Linked DNA regions of Homo sapiens: regions 1 and 3 are each linked to region 2. The links come from fine-mapping of genetic effects on gene expression. A gene starts in region 2. Each other region holds a variant in brackets. All regions are shown on one strand. Distances are from middle to middle.

Evidence for each region.
Region 1: its variant is fine-mapped to the expression of PPARD in whole blood (TOPMed, PIP above 0.99).
Region 3: its variant is fine-mapped to the expression of PPARD in whole blood (TOPMed, PIP 0.91).

What each region holds. Positions count from the first base shown.
Region 1 is chr6:35,388,699-35,391,198 of GRCh38, reverse strand. All of the region lies in intron 2 of PPARD (peroxisome proliferator activated receptor delta), which reads right to left. Among named protein-coding and RNA genes, the nearest start is that of PPARD, 47 kb to the right of the region's middle. The variant G/C (reference allele first, on the strand shown) is at 1,283.
Region 2 is chr6:35,341,248-35,343,747 of GRCh38, reverse strand. PPARD (peroxisome proliferator activated receptor delta) reads right to left here and starts at 1,190. Exons shown (of 8, transcript NM_006238.5): 1 at 1,067-1,190. RefSeq lists silencers at 729-778, 809-948, 1,129-1,338.
Region 3 is chr6:35,415,134-35,417,633 of GRCh38, reverse strand. All of the region lies in intron 3 of PPARD (peroxisome proliferator activated receptor delta), which reads right to left. Among named protein-coding and RNA genes, the nearest start is that of FANCE, 36 kb to the left of the region's middle. The variant T/C (reference allele first, on the strand shown) is at 1,454.

The DNA of each region.
Region 1 (2,500 bases), 47 kb before region 2:
GGTATTCATTTTGTGTTAATGCTCTCTTCCGCATTTTCTATTATCAGATGTCTATATCAGATAGAGATCATTTTTACATGCTAATGAAATATATACAATCATATATCACAATATATTTGTCCATAATAACAATAAACTATGCATTTATTTTATTTTTATTATTTTAATTTTTTAGATGGGGTCTCACTCTGTCACCAAGACTGTCACCACCCGGAGTGGTGCTATCATAGCTCACTGCAGCCACAAACTCCTGGGCTCCAGTGATCCTCCTGCCTCAGCCTCCTGAGTAACTGGGACTACAGGCACATGCCACCATGCTGGCTAATTTTTTTTATTTTTAATAGAGACAAAATCTTTCTCTGTTAACAGGCTGGTCTCAAACTCCTGAGCTCAAGCCATCCTCCTGCCTTGGCCTCTCAAAGTGCTGGGATTACAGGTGTGAGCCACTGTGCCCAACCAAACCACCAAACCACGCATTTAATGTTACATCTTTTTTTCTCTTTTTCTTTTCTTTCTTTTTTTTTTACAGAAACACCTCTGAAATTTTATCACAGAAAAAATAATTCCATTTATTATTATGACCACTCCTTATTTAAAAACTCATAAAGTGTTAGGAAAGATATAGAAAAAGTTATGATTTTGGGCATTCCAGGGAATTTCTATTACTTGTTCCTCAATCCTGAAAGTTAATAACTGTTGGGAATTTGGAAGTACCAGCATCTTGATGGCCAGCCTTCGTTATGACCCCTGCTCCCACATGGCAACATTCCACCTAGTAGCTCCAGCCAGAGAGCCCCACTCAAATAAAATATCATTTATGGGACTGTTTCAGGCACCATGTACAAAAGCACTGACCTAGACCCCTATGGGGAGAGATGACAAAAGGAGTAAAACACAGCCTGCCCTTGAAGAGGTAAGTATACAAACTGTGTGATGGAGGGCACATAAGAGGTGGCCACTGTGGAGGAAGAAATATTCCAACTTGGGAGCAGCAGGGATGATTCTGGAGTAGGTGTAATGGCCCTTTCTTCTAGCTGGGCCAGAAAACTAGAAAAGGCACTCCCAGGGAAGGCCAAGGTGAGTCAGGCAACGCAGCCGAGAACACAGGGCACATCTGGGAATGGCGAGCTGTCCGCTTTGGCTGGGGCACCCCACTCTCTGAAGGACAGATAAAGGGCCAGGACCTGGCTAGCCTTGAATTCCTAGTTTCTAAGGTGTATAGACTTAATTTTGAGGCCCGGGGTTCTGCCCTCTGGTTCCAATGACTGTAAGAGTGGAGAGG[G/C]GCAAAGAAAGTCACCAGGGCCCTTCAGAAATGACACAGTGAGAGAGGGTGAGGGTCTGAAATCTCATCTCTCACCCTTTCAAAATGATACAGTTCCTGTATTTTCCCAGGCATAGCTCTTTGCACACTTTCTTGCTATTGCATTTTACTTCTTTATTTTGGGGAATATGCTATTTATTTGCCTGCTTGATTTATAATTGGGGTATAACATACTCATGGTTAGAGTATGCAATCTGCATTAATCTTAAACATAATAAGCCCCATGAATTCCTACATTTATATACCACCATAAAACCATCACCCAGGCTGGGCGCGGTGGCTCACGCCTGTAATCCTAGCACTTTGGAAGGCCGAGGCGGGCGGATCACCTGGGGTCAGGAGTTCAAGATCAGCCTGGCCAACATGGTGAAACCCCTGTCTCTACTAAAAATACAAAAATTAGCCGGGCATGGTGGCAGGCGCCTGTAGTCCCAGCTACTCGAGAGGCTGAGGCAGGAGAATTGCCTGAAGCCAGGAGGTGGAGGTTGCAGTGAGCCGAGATAGTGCTATTGCACTCCAGCCTGGGGCACAAGAGCAAGACTCCATCTCAAAAAAACAAAATAAACAAACAAAAAACAAACCAAAAAAACCCATCACCCAGGTCAAGACAGTAAACATTTCCAGCACCCTACAAGGTTCTTTGTGCCCCTGAACAGCTAATCTCCACAATAAGTAACTACTCCGCTTTTTTTGAGACAGGGTCTTGCTCTGTTGTCCAGGCCAAGCTGGAATGCAGTGGTGGCCTGATCACAGCTCACTGCAGCCTCAGCCTCCTAGGCTCAAGCTATCCTCCCACCTCAGCCTCCCAAAGTACTGGGATTACAGGTGTGAGTCACTGTGCCTGGCTGTAAACCACTCTTCTGACCTCTATCACCATCAGCTAGTTTTGCCTGCTGTTGTGCGTCCAGTTTCTCCTGGTTGGAGTCAGAGCCCACAGAGGGCAGGCACTGAGAGGTTCCTGCTGCCTTGTGGCCCTCTACAGTGCTGGGCACGCAGCAGGCATTTAGATGTCTGATAAGTCAATGATTAGACCAGGTGGTGGAAGCGTGTCCATGGACACCGACCCTCTGCCACATGTTTGCACCTTCTGCCTATGCTGCTCTCCTGCCTGAAATGCCCGCCTCCCCTTTTCCTTTGTCTCATTCCTACCTTCCCCTCTTTTGTTTGAGACAGAGTCTC
Region 2 (2,500 bases):
GGCACACATCCAGCTCAGCGCCGTCTCCCCCAAGGGTTCCTGGAAGTCAACAGCCCCATAAAGGGGAAGTATTAAAGCTGAGATAAGAAGAATGGCCTACAAATTGGACATCATCTCTGATGCAACACCCACGTACATTCTCCCACACAATCTGTTATTTCCTTTAGTCAATCAGCCTCTTAATTCGATCAAGGTCTGAACACCTCCACCCCCACCCCATGGTTATGTCAACTGCAGGTCAAGTGAAAGTAGAGTAGAGTGTGGAGCTAAGGCTTCTCCCTGAAGCAGGGGAAAGGAACAGGGAGAGAAAAGGAGGTGGGCGACAGGAATGTAGGGGACAGAATTGATACGAAGGAAATCGGAAAAAGGAGCAAAAACAGGGCCTCTCAGGGAACCAAGGTGAGAGTCTTAGGGAGACAGGGACTGCAGGCACGGAGTTGGAAAAAGCCTAGGAACACCCTGGGGAAGAGGATGGGGACCCATAATACTAGGAGGGATCAGACCACAGATAAGAAGGGGACAGGGATGGGGAGAGAGAGTAAAGCCTGAGAGAGCAAGGATGGGAGGATGAAGGCAGGAGACAAGGATAACGAGGGGGACAGAGGAAAAGATCCCAGAGAAGACTCTCGCTAGATAGGGCAGTGGATTCAGGAACACCAGAAACGGGTGAAGGAAGAGGTCAGAGGCAGGGGAGGGGAATGGGAGAGGCCCCCGGGCCTGAGACGGGGTTCTCACAAGTGGGAGAAGACGAAGCCACCAGGCCCAAGAGGGGGCAAAGAGTAGGGTGGAAGGAGGCCCGTATTTCGGACTCACTCAAGCAGCTATGGGGGTCCAAGGGCGGGGGGGCGCAGGGTCAGCGGGGCGCCTACATGGCAACGCACGACGGCTGACCGGAGCGGGCCGGAGCATCAGGAAGCCGCCGTGACGCTGTCCGCGGACCCCGGCAGCTCCCCGCACCCCGTTCCCCGCCGCCGGGCCTTGCGCCCCAGTCCCGCTGGCCGCCTCGGCCCAGGCCCGGCGCTTCCCTCCGCCACTTGCCTGACCGCTTCTCTCGTCTCGGACTGACCTGTCCCGGCTGCCTACGGCGCCACCGCCGCCGTCCCGCAGGCTCCGCAGAATTCTCCCGCTCCTGCCAAAACTTTTCCCATTAATCCCCAGGTCCGCGGCGGCCGCAGCGTCACACGCTCCGCGGCCCGGCCCCGCCCCCGCCAGCGAGACGTCACCGCGCTGCTCGGCCTTTCCCTCCCCACGCCCCCTTCCGCCCGGCGGCGGCCAATCACCACGCCTCCTGGAGACTCCCCTAATTCTGCCTCTCCGCCCACCGCACGCTGCCCCGGGCCAGCCTGTGGCGCCCTCTGGTGCGGGATGCGGACGTAGCAGCTAAGGGAGGAGCAGGGGAGCGCCAGGTCCAGTAGAACAAGTCCAGCAAGTGACACAAGAGGGAATTTAAAGCTGGAAGGGAATTTCTAGGTCATCTAGTGCAACCTCCTCATCTTCCAGTGAAGAAACTTAGTCCTAGAAAAGGTACGTGACTTGCAGTGACAAGTCTGGAGAGACTCTTAACCCAGTGCTAGGTCCACTGGAGGAGATCATATCGCCTATAATTTTCAAAAAAGGGCTTTCCGCCTTCAAGAGGCTTCTACAACTGGAAATTTACGGTCTTAGAGTTCTTAACCTTTCTTCCCATGTGCTTATGCAATACGCTTATTCACCTAAAATAGGGGACATCCTCCTTATTGTTGTAGAAAATTCTGTTCTTATTAATCCACATCTTTAAGACCTGGAAGGGACCTATTATCCCAACCTACCGCTTAAGATGTACCACAGGAAACTACCTAGCAGCTGGGAGGCAATCTGGTGGAAGAAGTTGGCTTTCATCTGACGATGAACAAAGCTTGACTCTCAGGTATATGACCAATGCCTCCCCTCCATCATCATTAAAGATGACCCCTCCCCTCTCCTTCGGCCACACCTTCCGTAGGCCGCAAGCTCCTTAGGCCACACCTAGCTATCTGGATGAGTGATTTTTTTTTTTTTTTTTTTTTTTGAGACACAGTTTCACTCTGTCGCCCCTGCTGGAGTGCAGTTGCGCAATCTCAGCCCGCTGCAACCTCCGCCTCCCGGGTTCAAGCGATTATCCTGCCTCAACCTCCCAAGTAGCTGGGATTACAGGCATGCGCCACACGCCCAGCTAATTATTGTAATTTTAGTAGAGACAGGGTTTTGCCATGTTGCCCAGGCTGGTCTTGAACTCCTGGACTCAAGTTATCCTCCCACCTTAGCCTCCCAAAGTGCTGGAATTACAGGCGTGAGCCACCGTGCCTGGCAGGGATGAGTGATTTTTTCCCCCTTCTTTCTGCTTCTCTTTTTCTTTTTCTTTTTTTTCCCCTACTTTTTGAAATGCTTGTGCATTATATTTGTAACTTAGATGTCAACCTCCTTGCCCTTTGAGATTGAGGTAAAAATGGACGGTGAAAGTCAGAGTCCCTCCCTTAACATA
Region 3 (2,500 bases), 74 kb before region 2:
CTTGAACCCGGGGGCAGGGGGGCGGAGGCTGCAGTGAGCTGAGATCGCGCCATTGCACTCGGCTGAGTGTGGTGGCTCACGCCAGTAATCGCAGTACTTTGGGAGGCCAAGGCAGGAGGATTACCTGAGGCCAGGAGCAACATAGTGAGACCCTGTCTCTATAAAAAGTAAAAAAAAAAAAATAGTTGGGTGTCGTGGCACCTGCCTATAGTGCCAGCTACTGAGGAGGCTGAGGCAGGAAAATCCTTGAGCCTAGGAGAGCTGTGATTGTGCCATCGTATACCAGCCTGGGTGATAAAGCAAGACTGTCTCTACTTAAAAAAAACAAAAGGCCAGGTGCAGTGGCTCACACCTGTGATCCCAACACTTTGGGAGGCTGAGGCGGGAGGATCACTTGAGCCCAGGAGTTTGAGACCAGCCTGGGCAACATAGTGAGACCCTGTCTCTATCTCTATAAAAAATTTTAAAAACTAGCTGGGTGTGGTGGCACATGCCTGTAGTCCCAGATACTTGGGAGGCTGAGGTGGGAGGATTGCCTGAATGTGGGAAGATGACTTGAGCCTGGGAGGTCCAGGTTGCAGTGAGCTGTGATTGCACCACTGTACTCCAGCCTGTGGTGACAGAACAAGACCTTGTCTCAAAAAAATAAATAAACAAATAAATAAACAAGAAAAACAAGGAAAGGTAAGGTGTAACTTAACCTACTGTAACTCACTTGTGCCTACAGGAAAAAAATAAAATAGAAAAAAAAAGAGAAAGAGATAAGAAAACTAGAACATGAGACAGAGTGGAGCAACGCCAGGTAAGGGGCAGTAAGAAGTGCAGGATATTGGAAGGAGCCATCACTCACGCATGTGACTGTCACGGAAGGGGACTGCTTCCCTCTCTGCTGAAAGAAAGGTGATGGCAGAATTCTTCTCATACTAGGGGCTGGGTTCTGAAGGTTCCACCACTTCCCCCGCATCATGATGTCCTGGGTAGAGGTGGGGGTAAGCAGGTGTCCTGCTAAAGGCACTCCATTGGACACCCATTTCATCTCACGTAAAACCTCAAAACAACCTTTCAAGATGGTCTTCTTACCCCCACTTTACAGGCAAGGAAGCCGAGGCTCCAAGGCTCAGAAGTGTTAGTAACTTGCTGGCAGCGGCTATGTTGGTCTTACATATCAACTTGATTAGGCCACGGTGCCCAGTTGTTTGACCAAACAATGTGCTAAGAAGGTGTTTTTTTTTTTTTTTTTTTTTTTTTTTTTTTTTTTTGAGATGAAGTCTCGCTTTTGTTCCCCAGGCTGGAGTGCAATGGCGCGATCTCAGCTCACTGCAACTTCTGCCTCCCGGGTTCAAGCGATTCTCCTGCCTCAGCCCCCCGAGTAGCTGGGATTACAGGCGCCCAGCTAGTTTTTTTTGGTATTTTTAGTAGAGATGGGGTTTCACCATGTTGGCTGGGCTGGTCT[T/C]GAATTCCTGACCTCAGGTGATCCACCCACCTTGGCCTCCCAAAGTGCTGGGATTACAGGCATGAGCCACTGTGCCCGGCCACTAAGAAGATATTTTTTAGATGCAATTAACATTTAAATCAGAAGACTTTGAGTAAAGCAGATTACCCTCCATAATGTGAGTGGCCCTCATCCAACAACTGAAGGCCTTAAGAAAAAAGACTGAGTGCCTACCGTGGCCCCACTGTGGAACAGGAAATTCTGCCTCCAGGCTGCCTTTGGACTTGAGCTGCAACATCAACTTCCCCGGCTCTCCAGCCTGCCTGCCTTTCAAAATTTGGACTTGCCACTCCAACAACTGTGTGAACCAATTCGTTAAAACACATCTCTTTCTTTCAACACACACACACACACACACACACAGGTTCTCCTTCTCTGGAGAACCCTGACTAATACAGTGACAGAGCAAGAATTATAACCTAGAACCATGCAATTCCTGGAGCTGAGCTCTTAACCTCGGCATCTCACTACTACGCATACCTACATGTTCAGTACCGCTAATCAATAACATTATTATGATGAACAAGAAGACACAGTCACTGCTGAGGAGGCACCATGTCATTATCCAAATGTTTGGATTCAGTGTAAACACTAGCCCTCTCACCCAGAGAGTAAAGTATCAGTTTCACCATCTTTGATGACAAGTTCAGCAAATAGACACTATTGACCTTATTCACATCATTTGTGGCTGAGAGCTCTCCTGCATATCTAGCCTCCAATGCTGGGAGAATGCCGTTGTCATGGCTGTGAAGACAGCCAGGAGGCGCCCGATTGGTCTATTTACTTTGCTGGCAGAGCTCACAGGCAAACAAGCACCCAGCAGCTTCTGAAGTCAGGCCAAATTCTGCAGGGATTTGAGGCTGGGTTACTGAGCAGCCTCTTTACTTCTGCTGTCCTGTTTGCCTGAACTGTGGGCTCCTTGGGACAGGCACTCAGCCTTGTCCACCACTGTATGGCCAGCCCTGGGCACAGTGCTGGGCCCAGCCTGATGCCCACCAAGTGCTTGCC